Linked DNA regions of Homo sapiens. The protein of the gene in region 7 interacts with the protein of the main gene of each other region in a pairwise test. Each region holds a gene or a part of one and is shown on either strand. Other genes may lie near its edges.

Region 1 (3,500 bases), on a different chromosome or scaffold from region 7:
TAAATTTCAAAAAATGTATTCATTTTCAGCCACAAATTGGCCCCAGTCATCAGAGTGCTTCAGCCTAGCCCCTTCATGCCCTCTCCTATGTTCCTTTTGAATGGTGTAGGTGGAAAATCCCGACGGAGGCAGGGTGTGAGGCAGGTGGAGGGAATCAAGAGACAAACACCAGGTAGCCACAGGTGTGCAGAGGAAAGTTAGAAACCTCAAGTCTCAACCCCCAGCCACCTCACAGCCTTCCCCTCTGGTATCAGTGTGGGTGGCAAGAGGTGTGCTGATGCCCCAGCGCTGCCAGACTTGAGTGGGAAGTTAGCATGTGCCTTAACAGGACGCTCTAACCCCCACTGGCTCTTCATCAGTGTGACATGGAGTTTGGTCCTAAAAGGCCTCTACTGTTTTTCTGAGATATGAAAAGGAGAGTAGCAGTTTTCTAAAGAAAGGGCAGACTAATCAACATGTATCAGTTCAGGTCACTGCAGGTGGCTCTCATGAAAGGGGAGCGCCCAGCAGGCTGCTGGAGACCACCCTTCCAGGCCATCTGAGACACTGCAACTGTCAGCAGGAGGTGAGTGTCACTTGCAGCTTGCCTGACCCTCTCCCCCGTAGAGATGGCAGGGACTGTTCAGAAACGTACTGAAGTCCTGTGGAGCTGACAGACTCAACATGATCCAACAAAAACTAAGATAAAGCTCACACTTCCGAGTGACTGTTTCTCACAGCTCAGTGGCTGGGAGTGCTTCATTCACAGGGGACCACACCCTGATAACAGACAGAACCCACGCCCTATTATCCATCAGGGTTGATACAGGAAAAGGGCAGAGGCTGAAACATCATGACTGACATCAGAGTCTGTGTAATGTTTCTGTAAACCACTCCCAGGGGCTGGAGTCTCAGCAGTGCCAACTGGTCAGGGCTTCTAGGAATACCTAAGGCTAGGGAGTGAAGAGTCGCTGGGATCACCAGCACGGGCTTTAGAAGCTCTAGAAGCTTCTAAAGCTCTAATCTACTGCAAACAACCAGGCAGCCCTAACACTGCACAGTGGGGATTCAGTTACTAAAATACAAAAGGTTTTAGTTATAAGGCAGTCCACAGTAGGGGTCCTAAGGGAAAGCCACCTTAAAGCGAGGTACCAAAGGACAGCCACGTCTTCATTCTTCCAAGAGTAGATTCTGTAACACAATTTCTCAGCCTGTGATTGGACCCCTCGTAGTAGCACTCACTTTCATGATAAGTTCAGTAAATGGGAAAAGACCTGGATCCTAAGAGAGGCCACTTCATGGTTTGTTTCAAGCACTGGCAAAGGAACTGGGTACTTTCAGGCTCACAATAACTCAACTCCAACAGAAAGGATCCCAAACTCAAGGGCTCTGTCTTGTCATCAAAATATCACAATTTGAGGACACGTAATCAAAATATAAACACAGTTACTAAACTGTTGGATGAGGCTAAAACAAGAGGCCTTCTCTCTGTCCCCCAGCAGGGACCCCACCTTCAAGGTCAGTCTCTGGGTCCTCAGTCCATCTAAAATATTGTGCCCATCTAAAATGAGGTCATCCATGCCGTTGTGAACTTTCTGGAGGGAGGAGTTAAACTGCAGTGATTCGTCCATTGGTATGGTGGTGTCAGAGTCCTGTGAAAGAAACACAGGCACTTGATTAACTTTGCTTATCAGTCAGTTCCTGGGGTCTCACTGCTCTGTCTTTTGGCCAAGGCCAAGCCAGAACAGCCGGAGGGGCTGGTGAAAGAATCAGCGGACCCTAATGGATAAGAAAAAGCAAAGCAAAGGCCTGGGGTGGCCTCTGTCCACACAGAAGAGGAACTTCCTCAGATCTGTCACTCTCCAAATGAGTTCCACTCCACAAGTATCGTTCATTCCAACGATACTTGTCTCTGTATCATGATCTCCTCTTAGGAAAAGCTATTCCTTCAAGACCTCATTGGGTGTCTCCTAAAGGCTTTCTCTGACTACTCACTAACCTAGCTGGTTCCAAATGTTCCTTTCCATGGCTTCCCCTTAATGCAGTGTTAAATGTTTGCTCGTGTCCTTTAGCTATTTTATCTATAGTTTACCTCTCCAAGTAGACTGAGAGTTAACTAAGGATAGAGGAGGCTGTGCTTCTGCATTTTCTTTTTTTTTGAGACAGGGTTTCCCTCTGTCACCCAGGGTGGAGTGCAGTGGCGCGATCTCAGCTCACTGCAACCTTAGCCTCCTGGACTCAAACAATTCTCCCACCTCAGCCTTCTGAGTAGCTGGGACCATAGGTGCATGCTACCATGCCCAGCTTTTTTCTTTCTTTCTTTCTCTTTTTTGTATTTTTGGTAGAGACAGGGTTTCACCATGTTGCTCAGGCTGGTCTCCAACTCCTGTGCTCAAGGAATCTGTCCACAGGCCTCCCCATTTTATAGATGAAAAAATGCCCAGAGAGGTAGAATAACTTGTCCAAGATCACACAGCTGGAAGTGTGTCCAGTGATCACAGAGCTGGAAGTCCAGTGGAGCTGGGAATGTGGGTACTGAGCGCAGGGCCTGCCCTGTTACCCACACTGTAGAGGGAAACACCAACGCCCATCCTGGTGGCTCTACTTTTGCTCTGAAAGTGGACTATAGGCAGGAGCCAAGTCCTCGCCAGCTGTGAGAGCGTTCCCTTCTCTTTTCTGCCAATCACAAGCTCTCCTGCCAAGTAGTGCTGGGGTTTGTTTCGTGTTTTTTTTTTTTTTGAGACAGGCTCTCACTCTGTCACCCAGGATAGAGAGCAGCCTTGACCTACCAGGCTTAAGTGATCTTCTCACCTCAGGCTCCAGAGAGTAGTTGGGACCACAGGCTCACGCCACCACGCCCGGCTAATTTTTATATTTTTTTGTAGAGACAATGTCTCACCATGTCACCCAGGATGGTGAACTCCTGAACAATCCACTGCCTTGGTCTCCCAAAGTGCTGGGATCACAGGCGTGTGTCATTGTGCCCTGCTCCACTAGTGCTGTTTTTACCACCTAAATTCCAGTTTCAATTGTCCAAAAAAAAAAAAAAGGTTATGCCACTGTTTCTTTGCTGCTCAGATTTGGAATCATTTTGCACATACGTGTTTTCAACTGCCCCTGCTAACAGGGGAGCTCCTCACAGATAGGCGTCAGGTCTTTTAATTTCATCATGTGCTTTACTCCTAGTGCCTGAATTAACTAGTTTTCTGCATGCAGCTAATGCCCAGTGTGTCAGAAGATGCTGGCGTTTGAAAGACTCAGAGACTTCTCTTCAGTAATTTGACTAGCACTTATGAAATGCCATTCACATACAAATCTTTCTTACCCTCCCATCTAAAACAGTATGGCTGATGGGCCATTATCTCTCAGAAAAATGTATTATAGCTCCATATGGTAGAATGACCAGGAAGAAGTTTCATCTGGCAAGTCAATGTTTATTAAGAACTGACGGTGTGCACAGCATCACGCCAGGCTGGCAAAAAACAAAATAATCCCAAGCGATCATCCTTGGCCTAAAAAAG
Region 2 (2,370 bases), on a different chromosome or scaffold from region 7:
GTTTCACTCAGAGTTCAGCCATTGTCATCTGTGAGGGGGACACGTGGTTGGCTTTGTTGTGTGCTAACTTTGATGGTGACCAGGGGGTTCACTGAGCTCTGTAAGGTGCTGAAACTCCACTGATGTTTGTGATGAAAGACAAACAGCAAACATATTTGCTCTAAAACAAAAACGGAATTCCCTTGACCATCGTGCTTCGATGATCTCAGACTATTCTGAAGTTAAATTATATAAAGGAATTCTGATGTCATGCCATCCACATTCTCCAAATGTAAGACTGAGAGATGACTGCTTCCAAGGTAGCATCAACAAAGATTTTTACAAATGAAAACGTTAGATTTAACACCCGAATTAAGCGTGGAAAGGTGAAACATCAAGGCGGCAGGCAGCCTTTCTAAAAAGTTTGCTGTAGGAAAGATAATGTCAAAATAGGGACCAGTCCTGGTTTCATTAAGAAGCTATCATGACGTCTGATTTTAAACCATATGTAAATACAGTAATCTGAAGGATTTGGCAAAGATTTATTTTTTTTTCCATTTCCAGTTTTTTAAAGTAGACACAGATTTGCTTAGAATAAAGCTGATTTTAAAAGCACACAAAAGTTGAACACAAAGGAGAGGATTAAATTCACCAATGCAGAGTGATAAAGAGGAAAAGATACTGAGTAGGTGCCTTCAGCAGAAAACTGATCATCCAGGGTGATCACCTAATAATCGGAGACTTAATTCCTTATAATGCAAAAGCAAGAAGAGTTTAGTGTACGAACTGTACAGCTGAGTTTGTAGCTCTATCTTGGTTTCTGTTGATTATGAACAATTAGCATAGTTATATATAATCTTTCTTTAGTAGACAACCTGCATCCATTTAAATTAAATAATACTTTCTACAATAGTGTGATATATAAGGCCACAATATTTATTTTGGACAAACCCCTTAAAGTAGCGATTTTATTATCAATGTTATTCATTCTTTTGAAATATAAAGTACTTCAGCTGAATTAAGGTTGCAGATAATTTTTAAAATACAACACACATCATGACTAGTATATTAAAATTATTTATATTCAGATATTTATATCTAATATCAAATGAAAATTTACTACCAAATTTTCACAGTAGACATTAATCAGTCTGACATGCTTATTGATCCCATAGGTGTAATTATAGATCAACATGATTTTAGTGTCTATTCTTTTATTTTACTAAATTAGGAACGCAGCATTTACAGAACAAATAAACACAAGTGACGTGGCCACCCCAGGATCTAACAGCTCTTCAGTGAGCTATGTTGCAAGCTCAGAAGTAATCCACTAACGAACCAAGTCAGACTCCAGTTCTTCATCAAAAGGTGCTGGTGGAGGTTGTCAGACGCCTTCCAATATAGATCCTTCACAGAAAAATTATCAGTAGTTAATGTATCTTGTGATTCACAGGAGACTGTGTTACAGCTGAAACAGGGTAGCTCACTGTGGTTAGAGCTTATGCAAGGGGACTGGTGATTTTATACCCATTATAAAAATTTTGTAATGAATCTATCTGTGATCTTTTATCTAGTGTTTTATCAATATGTATTTTGTATTAATTAACTTAGAAAACATCAGATCGTATTCTTACATAGAAGGATCACCAAACCGAATGCTGTTTCCACACAGAAAGCTTCTGCTTTGTTCCAACTCAGTGCTGGGGGAAGTCACCTACCAGGGCAAGATGGTGTTGCTAGTTCATCACCACCAGCCTCACCAAAGCCAACTGCTTAAAAATGAAGCCCCTGCCCTCATGTGGTTTAAGTTTGGTAGTGGGAGAGATGTCCCAAACTAAAGATGCAGGAGTGTCAGAAAAGGCTTTTCGGCAATAGAGAGGCTCGCTCCAGCTGACCAGCGGGCATCACTCCCGGAGGGAGGAGGATGGGTCTCCAGGAAAGGGCAGAATCGGAAGCCTGGCTGGCCTGGCCTGTGGGCGGTGGTGTGGTGGGCACTGTGAGCGCAGACAGTGCTGCAGCAGCTTTCGGGGCAGATTTTATCGTGTGGTTCTGAAAAGCAGCTGAGGGGGTGTGGGTCGCCAGTGGCAGCATCAGGCTCTGAAAACCCGGGCAGGACGAAGGACAGTAGCTGGGAAGTAGTGGCTGCAGAAATCCATCCTGAAACGAAGGGCTTAAACCTTGTATTTAAAATGAGGATCCCGAGGCCTTGCCCCCAGAGTCTGCTTGACAGTTCTGGAAAAGGCTCCAGAAAGCAAACTGCCTGGTGATGCTGATGCAGTCTGTAGGTCTGACTCCCAAAAGCACCAGCAGAAATGAAGGTGACGGGTTATGGGGGGGACGTGAGAATGTGCCCAAGAGCTAGGAGAAAGCCACGCACACGGGAGGGCGAGG
Region 3 (3,500 bases), on a different chromosome or scaffold from region 7:
TTCACATTCTTTTCTCTGCGTGGAATGCATTTCTTCCCCTTTGTACCTGACTACATTTTATCTATCTTCAAAGCTCTTTCCTGGTTCTAGACCACCCTCCCCCTACTTTATCTTTCCACTTCATCATTCCTTGCCTCTTTTAGCTTAGAATGCTTATTACTTTCATATACTTATCTGTTTTATCTCTTTTATAAAAGACTAGAAGTGCCTTGAGGGCAGAATATGTAATTCAATTTTTGTATCTTCGAAAGCATAGCATCTTACACAGAACCATGCCAGAAAGTATTTACTGAATAAATATATTAATTTACTGTAACCAATAGCTCTTTGGTTCCTTTGGTTCTAAGGGGTTTATTCTTACTTCTTTAGGAACTTTTGCAGAGTCTCCATAAACCATTGGTACATTTTCAGAAACATTTAATTTTGTTATCAACATGCCATCCTTGGGTTCAAGAAGACTAAAGAAAAGACTTTATAGGAGAAGGCAATAATAACAAAAGCAAAACAAAAACTGACCAGATGACACTGCTTTGGATTCAGCAAAATTATTGTTTTTCTACACTGCCTCTTATTTGTTATTGTTACAAACATTCTACACCAAATATTATAGTACCTAGAATGGTGCCAAATTAAGCATTTTTGGATAATAGTGGATCTAAAATCTGTTTTACTGAAGTAAAAAAAATAACAAATAGTTAATACATTAAAATGTGATTAAATATCTAGTTCAGTTTGTTAAAATGAGAAATTATTAAGAAGTGTCACCTTCTTATGTTGTGGGCAGATGGAGTATTCTCTTGATAACTTCTCAAGGAACAAGCCACAGAACCTGGGAAGTGGGTGGGGGCGGAAGTGGGGGAATCTCTAGAATTTCTTCCCCACAGTGATTTGGCACAACGCCAGCTGTCCTTCAGCAAAGGTGTACTGTGTTCTTGTTAAAGGAGACTTATGCTTTTTAAAGGCTTTTATGCCTTTAAATGTATAGACGAATTAGATAGATTTTTAAATCGTGAATTTTTTTTTCTTTACTGATATAACACTTGGAAGCAATATTGAATAGTGACATTTAATTTTCTGTTGTCATATTACAATATCAAGGAAATTGATTGAGAGCAGGCAGCTTGGGCACCAGAGAAGTTTAAGAAAATGTTATATAAGCACTTTCTGCTGAACTTGGGGAATAAATACTTTTTTGTGATATGTAGATTCTTGTGTTTTTATAACTGTTTAGGGAAGATGTTCTGCTATAATGGCTGAATATAAGTTGCAGAGATTTAAACCCGCCCTTATATTAATGTTCCACCTCATTAACTTAATTGTTAGGGCGTTTACACTTCAGTGATTTAAATAAAATACTCTAAATGTGGTTCTGTTGTCTTTCCCTCTGTCTCCTGTTTGAGGTCTAGATGATTATGTATTTAGTTATGTGTTTTCATGTAGACCCTGTTGTTAATTCTATTAAGCGTAAGATGATGATGAAGGGAAGCTATTGTATAACTTTTGTGCTGCTGCAGCCCTGGAAGATAAGGGAATGTATTTATGAAACTAAAATGGTCACTTATTCAGCTGGTGTTTTGTCATTTTTACCTTCCAGTGTTATTCAGAGGACCAGGAACTTCATAGCTATAAGACTCCATTCTGTTTTGGAGTTCAGATTGCTGATTATATATGAGCTTTCACATGTATCCAGTGATATTTATAGCCCTAGAACCCAGATAAGGCAAAGTTTTGCTTAAAAGTAAGCTATGTTTGTACTTTAAAATGTTTCCTAAGCATTTTCAGAAAAAGTAGGATTATGCAATGAATTTCCAAGCAAAGTCACCTTTACAAATACTTTCACCTACCTGCAAATAGTAGACATATTTATGCAGTAAGGTTTTTTCTAAATGATTTACTGCCGGTTGTGAGCATCCCTTAGCACTGTCTATCCCAAATGCAAGTTACATGTCTTTGTTAAAAACATAGAGAAAGGCCAGATGCAATGTCTCATGCCTGTAATACCAGCACTTTGGGAGGCCAAGGTCAGAGGATCACTTGAGGCCGGGAGTTCAAGACCAGCTTGGGCAACATAGTGAGACTCTGTCTCTATAAACAATTCAAGAAAAAATTAGCCAGGCATGGTGGCACGTGCCTGTAATCGTAGATAGTCGGGAATCTGAGGCACGAGGGTCGCTTGAGCCCTTGAGTTTGAGGCTTGTAGCGAGCTGTGATTGTGACCCTGTCTCAAAAAAAAAGGAAAAAGAGAAAAATAAGTTAATTTTTCAGGGAAATGAAGCTTTTATGTTGTCAAGCATTTTTCATTTTATAACAGTATTTAATTGTGAATATATGGTGTTAAATAATTCTATGAAGTATCTGCTTGACCCATTTAAGTTGAGCAGTGAATTTCTGTTTTACCTAAGTTCATCTTTGTGAGGTATTGGTGTTCATTTCTAACTATTTCTTTTATTTTCCAGCTCACCAGCGACTGGAACCAGCAACTCTGTCAGGGATTGTAGGATTTATCCTTAGTCTTTTATGTGGAGCTCTGAATTTAATTCGAGGCTTTCATGCTATAGAAAGTCTCCTGCAGGTACTGTGCTATTTTTGCAATTTCAGGTGACTGTGCCTCTTCATTCTACTGGTTACATAATTGATTTGAATTGGATTGGGTATTAGTATAATTTACAGTGCATACTCAAAATCTATGTTTTTTTATATCTGCTTTAGCCTCCTTCTAAAAACACTGGTTGGCTTCTTTGATTCCATTGGCACATGTTTATCATCTGCTCTTTAGGAGGCACTATTTATAGGCACCCTGGGGACCCCAAGATGTGTGTGACATAGGCCTTGCAGTCTCATAACTGAAAGTTGAACTGGGGAGGCAAGAAAGTAATTGCCAAATACACAGAGTTGGGAAGGGGGAGAGGTCAGTATAATCAGGATTGGAGAAGGAAGGTTTTGTGGAGGAGAGTTGAACTGGTCCTGGAAAGATCTGATCAGACAGAGAGCAGTGGAAGAATGAAGAGGGCACACGTGGGCTGTGTTTATTCCACTTCTGTGTATTCCCTACTTAGTTCATCTGCTTCTTTTTCTTTTTTTGTTAGTGGCTTCTTAAAACTTGAGCTTCCTAGAAAACCACAAATTTATTCAGATATTGCTAACTATTACATTTTCAAGTGGAGTTCCTTTCAGAAGCTATAGCTATCAGAATATACTAATTTTTTCTCTTATGCTTTTTGTAAACTTTTTGAAATTTTTTTTTAAGTTTAGCACATTTGAGACTGCACAGCTTTCCTTTCCCTTATTTCTATTCACTTTCTCTGAAGAACTCTTGACACTCTCACATTATGAATCAGTCCTCTTTTTTTGGTCAGCATTAAGTGCAGAATACCATTTGTAAAAATCCACTGAGCACACTTTATATTCTGTTTTTAAATTGCTGTTAGTTTGGGGAACCCTCAGAGGGTATCTTTCTGCATCTGTTTAGCCATGTAAAGCCAACAGCAGATGACATCACA
Region 4 (3,500 bases), on a different chromosome or scaffold from region 7:
AGAATACTTTAGAAAATTCTACAACTCTCTGCTTCATACTAACACTGTCTTGCCAGAGTGCAACTCTAGTGTTTTCAGAGTCGGTTTATGGCCTAACCCTGTTCTGAAGGCAATGCCTGATATAGAAAGCAGGCCCAACTCATCAAATGTTGCTTTCGTTTTCCTGGGTCCAGGGCTAGAGCCTCGGGTACTGGACCAAGCCTCTGCCATAAATCTGAACAATTCATAAACACATACACATACAGCCTCAAGAAACTCAATAAGCAGTGAAAGCAGAGTTTCTTGCCACAGTTAGAACTCAAGAACACTACTTCCTTCTCCTCCCATCTCTGCTCCAGAGCATAAATAACACAGTTAGTGTTTATAAAAAGAGGTTAAAATGCAACTCATTCAAACTGCCAGTAATTACAAAACTGATCTCTTAAATTCTAAATGTTTAGTGAGCATCAGCGATTTTGCCTCTAATTGCTTTACCTAGGACTCCCAGTTGGACAGAATGCCTTACCTCGCCGCCCCGGAGGCTCTGGACAGCAGCACACACAGCAGCAGCACTGCCACCCAGAGCAGGGCTAAGATGAACACGCCCGCACCGACTCCGAGCACAGTGCCAGCCATCCCGCGGGGAGGCAGCGGCGGCCCCCCGCCCTGCGCGCCGCACGATCGAGTGTCCTCTGTGCTCCAGTGCAACACACTCCCGTGAAAGCATTCAGACAAATACAGAAAGCCTAAACTCATTACAGGTTATTTTTTGATGATCAGTGTGTTAGGAGGATTACTCAGTACAGGTCATTAATTTTCAGAAATGTCCAGTCCCAGAGTCCCTTAATGGAAACTGGAAATTTAGAACCCAAAGCCTTTCTCTTTGGTGGGGACTGAGAGGGTGTTTTCCGCTCTGCGCTCAGAAGTTTTTTCTGAGTGTTTCCTTTCAAATTTGGTACCTGAGTTCTACTTTGACCTCTTCCCCCAGCCCACGGGAGAAAGCTGAACCCTCTCTGAATATAAAACCCTACCTAAGAACTGGTAGAAGACACCAGGGCATGGGAACTCCAGGGCCAAAGCAGAAGTTGAAGCTCTCAGGTTAAATCCATGGTGTGAGCTGTGACTCACCAGGCAATGGATCACAAGACAGAAAGTTCCCACTCTGTTGTCGAGTTCTTATTCAAGAGGATGAAAACTCCCAGTCCTTAAAGAAGAGGAACAGCCATCACTATTTTTGAACATTCACTGTGTGCTAAGTGCCGTACAAACATATCTCATTGAATCCCGGAGCGAAGCTTCTGAGAAAGGTATTACTATAGCCATGTTACAGGATGGGTAAGTGAGATATAAGCGCGATGGGGTATCTATTAGTTTCCTAATTAGCAGCTCAAAATAGAAATTTATTTTCTCACAGGCCAGCAATCCAAAATAAAGGTGTCAGCAGGGCTGTGCTCCCTCCAAAGGCTCTAGGGCAGGGGTCCCCAACCCCTGGGCCATGGACTGGTACTGGTCCATGGCCTTTTAGGAACTGGGCCGCACAGGAGGAGGTGAGCAGCAGGCAAGCCAGCCTTACCACCTGAGCTTCGCCTCCTGTCCTATCAGTGGCAGCGGCATTAGGTTCTCACAGGAGCACGAACCCTAGTGTGGACTGCACGTGCGAAGCATCTAGGTTGCAGGCTCCTTATGAGAATCTAATGCCTGAAGATCTGAGGTGGAACAGTTTCATCCGGAAACCACCCCCCTGCATCCCCCTGTGGAAAAACTGTCTTCCATGAAACCAGTCCCTGGTACCAAAAAGATTGGGGATCAGTGCTCTAGGGGAGAATCTTTCCCTGCCTCTTCCATCTTCTGGTAGCTCCAGGCACCATTCACTGGCTTTTAACTCACAACTCCAGTCTCTGCCTCCATCTTCCCATGGCATTCTCCTGTGTCTGTCTTCACATTTTCTGTCTCTTATAACGGTACTTGTCATTGGATTTAGGGTCTGTACAAATAATCTAGTATTATCTTGAGATGCTTAACTTAATTAAATCTGCAAAGACCCTTTTGTCAAACAAGGTCATGGTCACAGATTCCAGGGGTGAGGATGCGGACATATATTTTTGGGGACCACCATTCAACTCACAGCAGAGGAACAGCACACCACACTACCTCTCCTGGTTTTCCTTTTCAGCATTGGAGACAAGTCTTAAGCAAACACATTCCTCTAGGTTGCTGGTTTTCTTTACCCTTATGGTTTAAATACCACGAAAATATTAGCTATGAGAAGTTATAAAGTTATTGGAAAGGAGGGTCTAAGCATGAACTGGTAAAAAAAATACGTTTATTGAATCAACATTTATGATGTTCCCACCATGTAAAGCACTGCGCTACAAGCTGGGGATGCCAAAGGTGAATAAGATATCTTCTGACAGAAGCTCAAGGTCTATTGGAGAACATTGTCCTGAAAACAAGTGTCCATATTACATTCTGATTAATGGTAAAAGCGAAGTGCAGTGGGAACTGCAATAGTGAGAGGGGCTTTACAAAGGAAATACTCTGCACAGGCACATTTAGGAAAGAATCAGAGTGAAAAGATGACAGAGTGAGGGGAGATGGGACCTGGGGCCCACCTGCATGCCTAACTTCTCTGGGGAGCAGTCTGCCCTCATTAGGGCCACATGGGCGCCATCTCGGTCACTCTAACACGCCCGGGGTTTCCCCATCTCTGGGTCTTTGTACTTGCTGTTTCCACTGCCTGGAACTAGCCCTCAACCCCAAGCACTCCTGCTACTATTTGTAGGACTGGCTTTCCTCAGCCTTCTGATTTCTGCTTAAATGTCACTCTTCAGTGAGGTCTTCCCCGAGTGTCTTCTCTAAAGTAACCCCTCAAACACTGACTCTCCATCACTCTATTTCCTTCAGAGCATTTTTCACAAAACTAGTTAATATTTTCATTTATTTGTTTACAAGTTTATTTTCTGTCTGTCCAACTAGAATAGTAAACTCCACGAAGGCAGAGACCTGATATCTTTCTCACTGTGGTAACCCCAGTTCTTAGCACAGAGATTATGCACAACAAGTATCTGTGGGAGGAATAAATGACACAGTGCTAACAAGTCCACAAACATCAGGTGAGGGAGTGAAAGGATCATATGGAGTTTTAGAAAGATGACTGTAACCTCTGGTCAATATGCTGGATGGAAGTTAACAAGGGAAGTGCCTCATACAACAGCAAACACATAAATGTTCAATAAAATAGAACAAGAAGAATTTAGTACACAGCAGAGCTCGAAAGCAATAAAGAAAAATCATTAAGTGCTATAAAAAAATGTAACTCAAGGCCTGAGCTGAGCCTAAAAGTCTACGAGGGTCCTGGTGCCTGATACAGACCTTCAGGGTGATTCTCTTCAGGGCAGATAAGGTCTCAAGCCCACGATGGCAAAGAACTAGCAATGAGAACAATGCAGAAAGCTGGGCCCTCACAGGATTGACCAGTTTTTGAAATAGGGTCTAAATAATTTGCTACTGACTTAGTTGGA
Region 5 (3,500 bases), 3.3 Mb from region 7:
CCATTCAATTACTAATTATAAATATTAATTATATTATATTATATTCTTCCTTACACTGATGCAGTTGTAAAATATGATTTTTAATATTTTTTTAAGTGAAGGAGGAGCCCACAAAGACAGAAGTGCCCAGGGCTCAGGAGTCATAATGTGGCCCTTCCTTTCAAGGTTCCTGGAGGATATCTTCTCTAGGAAGTCTTTATAGACTGTGAGGGAGGAATAGGTGGGAAGGTGGGGGAAGAGAAATGCAAGACAGGGGTAGAAGAGAAGAGCTGGCCTTTAGTGATCCCATCATTTAAAGTATAAGCTTTCTTCCTATCTGTGATTTCTATTCTTTTGTCTATTGCTGTCTCTGAACTTACACTTGCTTGGACCCAGTGGATAGGAGACTGTCCTAAATCACTACTTCACTCATGTCACTCGCTGGATCAAGAATGCAGCCAGGTGAGGTGGCTTGCGCCTATAATCTCAACAACTCAGGGGCAGAGGAAGGAGCATGGCTTCAGGCCGGGAGAGTTGCCTGAGCAACATAGCAAAACCCTATCTCTACAAAAAATTTTAAAATTAGCTGGGCGTGATGGTGCACGCCTGCAGTCCCAGCTGCTCAGGAGTCTGAGGTGGGAGGATCCCTCAAGCCCAGATGTTTGGGTCTGTAGTGAGCCAGGATTGTGCCACTGCACTCCAGCCTGGGCAACAGAGTAAGATCCCATCTCTTAAAAAAAAAAAAAAAAAAAAAAGGTCAGGCACAGTGGCTCATGCCTGTAATCCTAGTACTTTGGGAGGCCAAGGCAGGCGGATTGCCTGAGCTCAGGAGTTTGAGACCAGCCTGGGCAACATGGTGAAACCCCGTCTCTACTAAAATACAAAAAATTAGCCGGGTGTGGCAGCGTGTGCCTGTAATCCCAGCTACTCAGGAGGTTGAGGCAGGAGAATTGCTTGAACCCGGGAGGTGGAGGTTGCAGTGAGCCGAGATGGTGCCACTGCAATCCAGCCTGGGTGACAGAGCAAGACTCCATCGCCAGAAAAAAAAAAAAAAAAAGAGAAAGAGAGAGAGGACTGATTCAACGATCAATTTTTTAAAAAAAATTTTTAAAGGATATAAATATACAACTGAACAAGAACAAAACAAATCAACTAAAAAATGGGACAAGACTTGAATAGACATTTCTCCAAAGATATACAAATGGTCAATAAGTACATGAAAAGATGCTCCACATCACTATCACTAGGGAAATGCAAATCAAAACCACAATGAGATACCACTTCACACACAATATGATGACTACCATTAAACAGAAAGTAACAAGTGTTGGCAAGGTTGTAGAGAAACTGAAACCTTTATGCATTGCTGGTAGGAATATAAAATGGTGCAGCTGCTGTGCAAACCTATATGGTGGATCCTCAAAAAAATCAAACACAGAATTACCACATGATATAGCAATTCCACTTCTGAGCATACATCCCAAACAACTGAAAGCAGGGTCTCAAGAAGATATTTGTACACCCATGTTTATGGCAGCATCAGTCACAATAGCCAAAAGGTGGAAGCAACTCAACTGTCCATCATAGATGAATGGATAAACAAAATGTAATATACACATACAACAATATTATTCAGCCTTGAAAAAGTAGGAAATTGTGACATGCTACAATATGGATGAACTTTGAGAATATTATGCTAAGTGAAGTTAGCCAGACACAAAAGGTCTATTGTATGATTCTACTTACATGAAGTACCTAGAGCAGTCAAATTTACATAGACAGAAAATAGAACGGTGTTTGCAGGGAAATGGGGAATCAGTGTTTAATGGGTGTCAAGTTTCGGTTTGGGAAGGTAAAGTTCTGGAGATGGATGGTGGTGAGGAACATGAATTACTTAATACAGTAGTCCCCCCAGGCCAGGCACTGGCCTGTAATCCCAGCACTTTGGGAGGCCGAGGTGGGCGGATCACGAGGTCAGGAGATCAAGACCATCCTGGCTAACACGGTGAAACCCCGTCTCTACTAAAAATACAAAAAATTAGCCGGGCGTGGTGGTGGGCGCCTGTAGTCCCAGCTACTCGGGAAGCTAAGACAGGAGAATGGCGTGAACCCATGAGGCGGAGCTTGCAGTGAGCTGAGATGGCGCTACTGCACTCCAGCCTGGGTGACAGAGCGAGACTCCGTCTCAAAAAAAAAAAACAACAGTAGTCCCCTCTTATCTGCGGTTTTGCTTTCCTAGGTTTCAGTTACCCGTGGTCAACTGCAGTCCGAAAACATTAAATAGAAATTTAACAGAAAAAGAAAATTCCAGAAAGGAACAATTCATACATTTTAAATTATGTACCGTTCTGAGTAGCGTGATGAAATCTCACACCCTGCTCCATCCTGCCTGGAAAGTGAATCATCCTTTTGTGTCCATGCTATAAACGCTTAGTAGAGTACCACAGCGCTTGTGTTCAAGTAACCCTTATTTTACATGACAGTGGCCCCAAAGCACAAGAATAGTGATGCAATTTGGACATGCCAACAAGAAGTGCTTCCTTTAAGTGAAAAGGTGAAAGTTCTTGACTTAAGAAAAAAAAAAAAAGAACTGTGTACTGAGGTTTCTAAGATCTATAGTAAATAAGACATTTTAAGTGAGAGAGACCATTTTCACATAACTCTTATTACAGTATATTGTTATAGTTGTTCTATTTTATTATTATTGTTAATCTCTTACTGTGCCTAATTTACAAGTTAAGCTTTATCATAAGTATGTATGTACAGGAAAAAACACAGTATAGATGGGGTTCAGTACTATCTGAGATTTCAGGCATCCACTGGGGTTTTTGGAATGAATCCCCTGTGGATAAGCGGGGACTACTCTACCACTGAATTGTCTGCGAAAAAATGGCTAAAATGGTAATACCTGTACTATGTTTATTTTACCATAAATTTTAAAAAAGAAAAAATGGCATGAGCCTGTAATCCCAGCACTTTGGGAGGCCGAGAAGGGCAGATCACTTGAGGCCAGGAGTTTGAGACCAGCCTGGCCAACATGGCGAAACCCTGTCTCCACTAAAAGTATACAAATTAGCCAGGCGTGGTAGCGCACGCCTGTAATTCCAGCTACTAGGGAGACTAAGGTGGGAGAATTGCTTGAACCCAGGGGGCGGAGGTTGCAGTGAACCGAAATTAAGCCACTGTACTCCAGCCTGGGTGACACAGCAAGACTTGGTCTCAAAAATAATAATAATAAAATTTAAAAAATGTAAACAGCTCCCCCTTGCCAAGGTTCTAATCCCTCAGCTAGCTGCCAAGGTATCACCTTTTTTCCCTTGTGGGCAGGATTATTCTGGAGGTCCTCTGCCCACCCGCTTCCTGAACATCCTCCAGGGTAAATCGTCTCTGTAGCTTCACACATGGTATGAGGTATTCTACCTTTATCTAGAGCAGGTACACACGAAAAAGGTATTCTACGTTTCTCTAAGATACCTGCTGCGCCCCTTTGCCTGTATGAACCTTGTCCGTCTTTCAAGGGC
Region 6 (3,493 bases), on a different chromosome or scaffold from region 7:
GCTTGGAAAAACTCATTTTTTTATTTACTTTTTGTTTTTCTTTCTTTTTTTTTTTTGATTTTGTTTTTGAGACAGTCTCTTGTCGCCCAGGCTGTAGTGCAGTGGTGCAATCTCGGCTCACTGCAACCTCTGCCTCTCGGGTTCAAGCAATTCTCCTGCCTCAGCATCCCAAATAGCTGGGATTACAGGTGCTTGCCACAACGCCTGGCTAATTTTTATATTTTGTTATAGATGGTGTTTCACCATGTTGGCCAGGCTGGTCTCAAACTCCTGACCTCAAGCGATCTGCATGCCTCAGCCTCCCAAAGTGCTGGGATTACAGGTGTGAACCACCACGCCTGGCCTGGAAAAACTCTTATTTTATTATGAAACAGTAAGAATTTAGTTTGGATAAGAACATGGTAAGGAGAGGATGGGAAGCATTTTGTAGTATCATTTGCAGCTGGGTAACATTGCTTCTGGTAAAAATAAGGAAAAACAAGTGAGCATCTGGCTCTGAAATCAGTCTGTGTTCCCATTCTAAATTATAGAAGTACAAGATTGGTGAGTAGCAACCACTGGTTTAGAGATCGTGCGTGCAGGCCAGGTGAATCTTTTATGTATAACAAGGGTGGGTTGAGTCAAATAGAGTCAGGTATAAGTGGAAACAGTTTCATTACCTTTGGTAGGGAGGCCATAACTAATAATTTTTAATGACCAGTCGTGAGCTGCGATTTTAATGGGATTAAACTTGAATATCTCCAAATATGTATTAATTACATTCAATTAATCATTATGTGCTAGCCATTATTTTAAAGACTACATGTATTAAGTCACTCTCTTACCAATAGTGAAGTAGGCACTATTACTGGCTCTATTTTATTGATGGGGACACAAGTGTAGGGAGATTAAAGGCCTTGCCTAAAGCCAGGCACTCTACCCCAGGTCCTACACGCCTCACCCATCTGCCAGGTGCCTGGGCTTTCTACTCTCCTACTCACAATTAGTCCCAGCCTCATTCTGGCATCAGGTGGCAGGTATATGACTGTGGGCAGATGGTTGGTTACGATTATGATAATTCATTATTACGACATCTGGGTGATTGTTTTTTAAATTTTGCTGATCTCATCTTGTAGGCCTTAGAAATTAAAGTGCTGTACAAGTCTGCCTCAGTTTATGAAATAGTTGGATCAGAGAGGTTGTAAACAAATTGAATAGAAAGTGAAGTTCAAATGGCCAGAATGCCTTTTTTTTTTTTTAATTTTTTTTTGAGATGGAGTCTCGCTCTGTCACCCAGGCCGGAGTGCAGTGGCTCGATCTCGGCTCACTGCAACCTCAGCCTCCAGAGTTGCTAGGATTACAGGCGTGAGCCACCACACCCAGCTAATTTTTGTATTTTTAGTAGAGACGAGGTTTCACCATGTTGGCCAGGCTGGTCTCAAACTCCTGACCTCAGGTGATCCACCCGCCTTGACCTCCCAAAGTGCTGGGATTATAGGCATGAGCCACCGGGCCTGGCCCAGAATGCCTCTTAAATTTTGCAGTCAGGCCGGGTGCAGTGGCTCACACCTGTAATCCCAGCACTTTGGGAGGCTGAAGCGAGGATCGCTTGTGCCCAGGAGTTCGAAACCAGCCTGGGCAATGTGGCAAAACCCCGTCTCTACAGAAAATTAGCTGGGCTTGGTGGCGCATACCTGTAGTCCCAGCTACTGGGGAAGCTGAGGTGACAGAATCATCTGAGCCCGGGATGTTGAGGCTGCAGTGGGCCGAGATCAAATCACCACACTCCACCAGCCTGGGCAACAGAGACTGTCTCAAAAAAAATAATAATAATTTTATAGTCAATCTTTTAAAGCAGGTAGTGTCATCCAGTATTTTTAAAAATCTAAAAAGCAAAAAAGGGATCTTAAGAAAACATCTAGTCCAAGTTGCTCATTTTACAGATGAGGAAGTAGAACCCTGGAGAGGGACAGTGACTTAGCCTTTGTGTTTCTTATCAATTCAATCCTATTCAAACCACATTCCCATCCAGAAAAGTGCTTAGAAGGAAGCGAAGGGCATTGCTATGAATTTCAATTTCAAATTAAGTACAAATTTGGATATCCTTTGGTCAATAAATTGGTTATCTAGCCAAAGCCTTTCTGAAATTAATAATATGCTAACAGGATATTTGTTTCTGGATGTTTGCTTAAAGTGCTCTTGCAGCAGTGGGGCTTCTATTTCACAATAGCGAGGCTTTATCTTTTGATTAAAAATTAACAGGAAAAATATTCTTGGATTTTCCATTGTAAGTAAGATAAATTCTTACCCTGGAGTTGCCTTTATTAATCATAATATCAAGACTTATTTGTCTTTGAAGGCCTGTGTGTCAGGGCAGCGCCACATCTAGGAGGTTAAATGTGACAAACGTTTAGTAGTCCACATAGAGCCAAGAGCACTAGGCTTTGGGCTCCTATAAAAGCCCAAGATGGGAAGCCTTAAACTCTGCTTCTTTTCTCTGCCTGTAGCCAGGTCAGCATGGATCCGCATCCTTTTTATTTGACAAGGTAATTACAAGCGTGGGGCCCAAGCTAGAACTGAGACGCTAAAACCCTGCATAACCAAGAAGCTACTAGGTAGTTTGTAGTTTGGGGCAGAGTTTGTTCTTCCACTAAAATCCTGTCTCCTAAAATAAACCAAAAATTAGAATTAGGGGAGTTAAGGAACTTGTTTGTCATATTGGAATTAAAGTGTCCAAAATTACATCGCCACAGAGGTTAGATTTACTTCCCCTTTCACTCCCACCCCCACCCCGCAAAAAGAAGAGGGAAATTCAATTCATTTCTGCATTTGAGGGAATCTGGCCTTTGGAGGAGTTTGGTGTGTAGTTGCCATTACAAAAGGGAAAGTGTCAGGATGGTTTTCATGTGTATTTGTTTTTTTAAACAAAGAATGATATTGTTGACAGAAATGTCACATTTGTTCATTCAGCGAACACCCTGAGTGCCTACCAAGTGCCAGATACTTATTGTTGCTCCTGACAGTGGCCAACACACCTGGATGTGTTATCTTGGAATTATGAACAGATTCTGGGTAACACAAAGAAGGGGCTGGAAGAGTTGAGAAAATTTCAGAGAAGGGAACATTTGAGTTAGGGATAGTAAGTTTTTATTAAATGACCACCTAGGCTGTGTCACAAAAGCCAGCTGGACATGCCATCTGCTGCCGGGGTAGTGGGGGGTGGCTAATTAATGACAGGCTCCTCCAGTGTATTTTCAAATGAGCTAGCGCCGAGCCTGTTGAGGGCAAGTGGCTGTAATTCATCATGATCGTTTTCTTTTTCAGTTTAGAAACCTGCTGAAGTGGTATGCTAAGGAGTTCAAAGACCCACTGCTACAGGAGCCCCCAGCCTGGTTTAAGTCCTTTCTGTTTTGCGAGCTTGTGTTTCAGCTGCCTTTCTTTCCCATTGCAACGTATGCCTTCCTCAAAGGTTGGTAAATGGTGGGAAAATCCCATTTTTACTCAGAAATCAGGT
Region 7 (2,783 bases):
ATTAAGCAAATATTGAAAACCAAGCTATGGGAATGGAGACAAAAACTAATATACAACCCCAGCCACCACCTGTTGTTGTTAGGGTTTCCTGAGGTCCCAGTGCTATGGGAAGAGCTGACTTCTAACACCTGACTACTCAAGCTTCTTAACTAGATTCTCTGCCATCCTGGGGCTGTAGCCTAACCTCTGGTGGCAGAGCAGGTGGAGATGACCCAAGAAACTTACAACCTCAAACCAGGATGTCTTATTCAAGACTGAATTCCAACCTCCATGGGGCACTGAGTGCTCTGTCCTGGAAGGGAACAGGGTAGCCCCCTGCCGCAAGAGGCAGATGGAAGAAAATGAGGCTGCTTGCTGTGACAGGAACTCATGGGAACGGGAGTACAATCAGGGTGCAGTCTCTTTCCTCCTATTCCATCCTGACCCACTTGGAAGGGAACTATTCTACGGTTCCCCCAGAGATCCCTACAAAACACCCAGGCAATCAGAGGAGACACAGATGAATCAAAAGCAGGGTTTATTTTTCTATCAAATCCCCAATCCATGTTCCAGCCAATGGATGAAGGGTGAATCAAGCCCCACATAGACTCTTGGTAAAAACAATTCTAACTTTCTAAAAAAAAAAAAAGCCAACACACTTTTTTCTTTCTTTTCAAAAAGCTCCCAGGCCTTTGGGAACAGCTGAAACAAATTCATATCCTGACTAGGTCTGTTTTCTCTTAGGTATTTGGATGGTCCCTCTCTGCTGCCACTTCTGCACAGATGAGGCACTGATAATGGCCTGCAGGTCACTCACAATCCTAGCTCCACATCACTCCATGGTTTGATAACCTAGAACCACGTTATGATTTCCATTTATAATGCCCTAAGAACAGCTGAAAAGATCTGTATTAAATTCTGCAAATCTTTATTGAGTGCCAACTATTTGCTGGGCACAGGCTAGGCACTGATTCTGCTGGTTCTGAGAAACATAAATGGTACCATAGGGAGGTGTTTCCTCCTAAGTGGCAGGAGGATGTTTGCTGGGAGTTAAGTGAACCAATTCCTCCTCTGCTTACACCACGTGGGGGTAGGTCCAGAACTCAGGCCTTGGGAACATATGCTGTGCTCTCTTCTACAGGCGCTGTGTGGAAGAACCAATAGCAGTTGTTAAATAGCTGTGGAATTTCCTCCACAATCCACATAGTGATGTGTCTCCAAGGAGCTCTGGGTCATGAGGCCAATGTATGAAATCTTCACTGAAGTTCTAGGGAAAAGAAAACCAAGAAGAATTAATTATGTTTGGGGGATGAAATAAGCCAGAAAAATGTCCCAGGAAATTTTTTGCAAGTTCAGAGAACAATACCCACGGGCCCCAGGCACATATCCTCATGGTTATGTAACCAGGAGGCCAGAAGATCTTTCCACTTTCACAGAGATACTGTGCCAGGAGGTGGCCTTCCAAACAAGGCTTCTCAATCGAGAATGATTTTACCCCACAGGAGACTTCTGGCAATGCCTGAAGACATTCTGGGTTGTCACAACTAAGGGATGGAGGGTTTACTACTGGGATCTAGTGGGCAGATGCCAGGAATACTGTTAAACATCCTATAATGCACAGAACAGCCCCCTACAACAAAGGTCTGGCCCAAAATGTTCGTAGTGCCAAGGCTGAGAAACTCTGCTCTAACCCCTCATATTTCATGTCTGCAGCAGAGTCTTGTCACTTGCAAATTTAACAGCCATGCTTCCAGAAAACAACCCTAAAGGTCCATGACATGTGGTAATTTGTGTGGCTAGAGAGGAAGTCTGGTCAAATGCCCAGTACTTAACATCTTGAGAAAGCTTTTCTGTTCATGACTGTCTCATTAGGATTCTGAGGGGATCAAGTGTTTAGTTAAACTAGACCCATTTTATGGAGAAAATGTTTGACTGCTCAGGGTGACTGGTGATTTGTGAAGGGCATGTGGACACTGTGTTTAGAGAACACCAAGGGTCTACTGTATCTGTGCCTGTGAGGCACAGGGTGTCCCCTCGGGCTAGGTGCCTCTGCCCTGTGGTCACACAGGGGCCTCCTGAGCAAAGGTGGTAGGCTCACATGGCCGGACAGGCCATCGGGATAGGGAAGAGAGACGCACCGCATGAAGATCACTATGTTGTGCACCAGGATCTCAGGTACCGTGCAGAAGAAGCTACCAAACAGCAAATATGGAAATAGTCAGTTTTTTTTTTTTTAAAGCCTCAGTAGAAGAGTGCAGAGTTACACTGTCCTGTTTGGGGTGCCCCCCTCCCCCTTCCGACCTAAGTGCTGCCAAGGCTTGTCAGCTCTCAGTCCCTGCCACTGTCATTTTCATCCTCCCACAGCGTCATACCACTTTCTGTTTTTTCAAACCCATCACATAAGTGCTGGAGCTTGGTAACGTTTTTAGTGGCTTAATGTTCTCTTTTAGAAATTCCAGCACTTCTGTCACATATCAAATAATACATTCTTCAAATACACACATAATAATAATACATTCTTCAAATAAATCTCAAGACATCCAAAGCCAGGGAACCTATAAGTCAAAAGCTGAGATCTAAGGCAGGACCAGGCCCCAATCAATGGAGTATGACTTTGAATCCCTTTCCTCCAGTAGAGAGCACACACAGAGAGAACAGTGTCCTTACTACACATAGGAAAACGGTCCTCCCATCTCGGCCTTCCCGGTAAAATTCACCTGAAAATAAGATACCAGAGTTGGTCTGTGGCCAAGCAGGCTTGACACAGAACAGTATTATTATTAGCAATCCAAAGACCTTGGGTC

What was found.
Region 1: the proteins of TMEM106C (region 7) and GOSR2 interact in binary tests that used the Homo sapiens proteins (3 or more experiments, as listed by UniProt).
Region 2: the proteins of TMEM106C (region 7) and BNIP3 interact in binary tests that used the Homo sapiens proteins (3 or more experiments, as listed by UniProt).
Region 3: the proteins of TMEM106C (region 7) and SEC22A interact in binary tests that used the Homo sapiens proteins (3 or more experiments, as listed by UniProt).
Region 4: the proteins of TMEM106C (region 7) and TMEM218 interact in binary tests that used the Homo sapiens proteins (3 or more experiments, as listed by UniProt).
Region 5: the proteins of TMEM106C (region 7) and SMAGP interact in binary tests that used the Homo sapiens proteins (3 or more experiments, as listed by UniProt).
Region 6: the proteins of TMEM106C (region 7) and TMEM97 interact in binary tests that used the Homo sapiens proteins (3 or more experiments, as listed by UniProt).

Annotation. Positions count from the first base shown.
Region 1 is NC_000017.11:46,933,160-46,936,659, reverse strand, and holds part of GOSR2 (Golgi SNAP receptor complex member 2), read right to left. Parts: intron 1,632-3,500; coding exon 1,491-1,631; coding exon of another isoform or gene 1,380-1,490; exon of another isoform or gene 1-1,379. UniProt on the Homo sapiens protein: Involved in transport of proteins from the cis/medial-Golgi to the trans-Golgi network.
Region 2 is NC_000010.11:131,967,184-131,969,553, forward strand, and holds the end of BNIP3 (BCL2/adenovirus E1B 19 kDa protein-interacting protein 3), read right to left. Parts: intron 1,387-2,370; coding exon 1,341-1,386; 3' UTR 501-1,340; downstream 1-500. UniProt on the Homo sapiens protein: Apoptosis-inducing protein that can overcome BCL2 suppression. May play a role in repartitioning calcium between the two major intracellular calcium stores in association with BCL2.
Region 3 is NC_000003.12:123,243,443-123,246,942, forward strand, and holds part of SEC22A (vesicle-trafficking protein SEC22a), read left to right. Parts: intron 1-2,456; coding exon 2,457-2,572; intron 2,573-3,500. UniProt on the Homo sapiens protein: May be involved in vesicle transport between the ER and the Golgi complex.
Region 4 is NC_000011.10:125,101,627-125,105,126, forward strand, and holds part of TMEM218 (transmembrane protein 218), read right to left. Parts: intron 1,184-3,500; 5' UTR 1,108-1,183; exon of another isoform or gene 1,040-1,107; coding exon of another isoform or gene 1,011-1,039; intron 726-1,010; exon of another isoform or gene 692-725; coding exon of another isoform or gene 616-691; coding exon 506-615; intron 1-505. UniProt on the Homo sapiens protein: May be involved in ciliary biogenesis or function.
Region 5 is NC_000012.12:51,263,916-51,267,415, forward strand, and holds part of SMAGP (small cell adhesion glycoprotein), read right to left. Parts: intron 1-3,500. UniProt on the Homo sapiens protein: May play a role in epithelial cell-cell contacts. May play a role in tumor invasiveness and metastasis formation.
Region 6 is NC_000017.11:28,322,200-28,325,692, forward strand, and holds part of TMEM97 (sigma intracellular receptor 2), read left to right. Parts: intron 1-3,303; coding exon 3,304-3,448; intron 3,449-3,493. UniProt on the Homo sapiens protein: Sigma-2 receptor which contributes to ameliorate dysfunctional cellular processes and slow degenerative progression by regulating cell functions including cholesterol biosynthesis/trafficking, membrane trafficking, autophagy, lipid membrane-bound protein trafficking, and receptor stabilization at the cell surface.
Region 7 is NC_000012.12:47,966,596-47,969,378, reverse strand, and holds the end of TMEM106C (transmembrane protein 106C), read right to left. Parts: intron 2,697-2,783; coding exon 2,647-2,696; intron 2,172-2,646; coding exon 2,118-2,171; intron 1,247-2,117; coding exon 1,150-1,246; 3' UTR 501-1,149; downstream 1-500.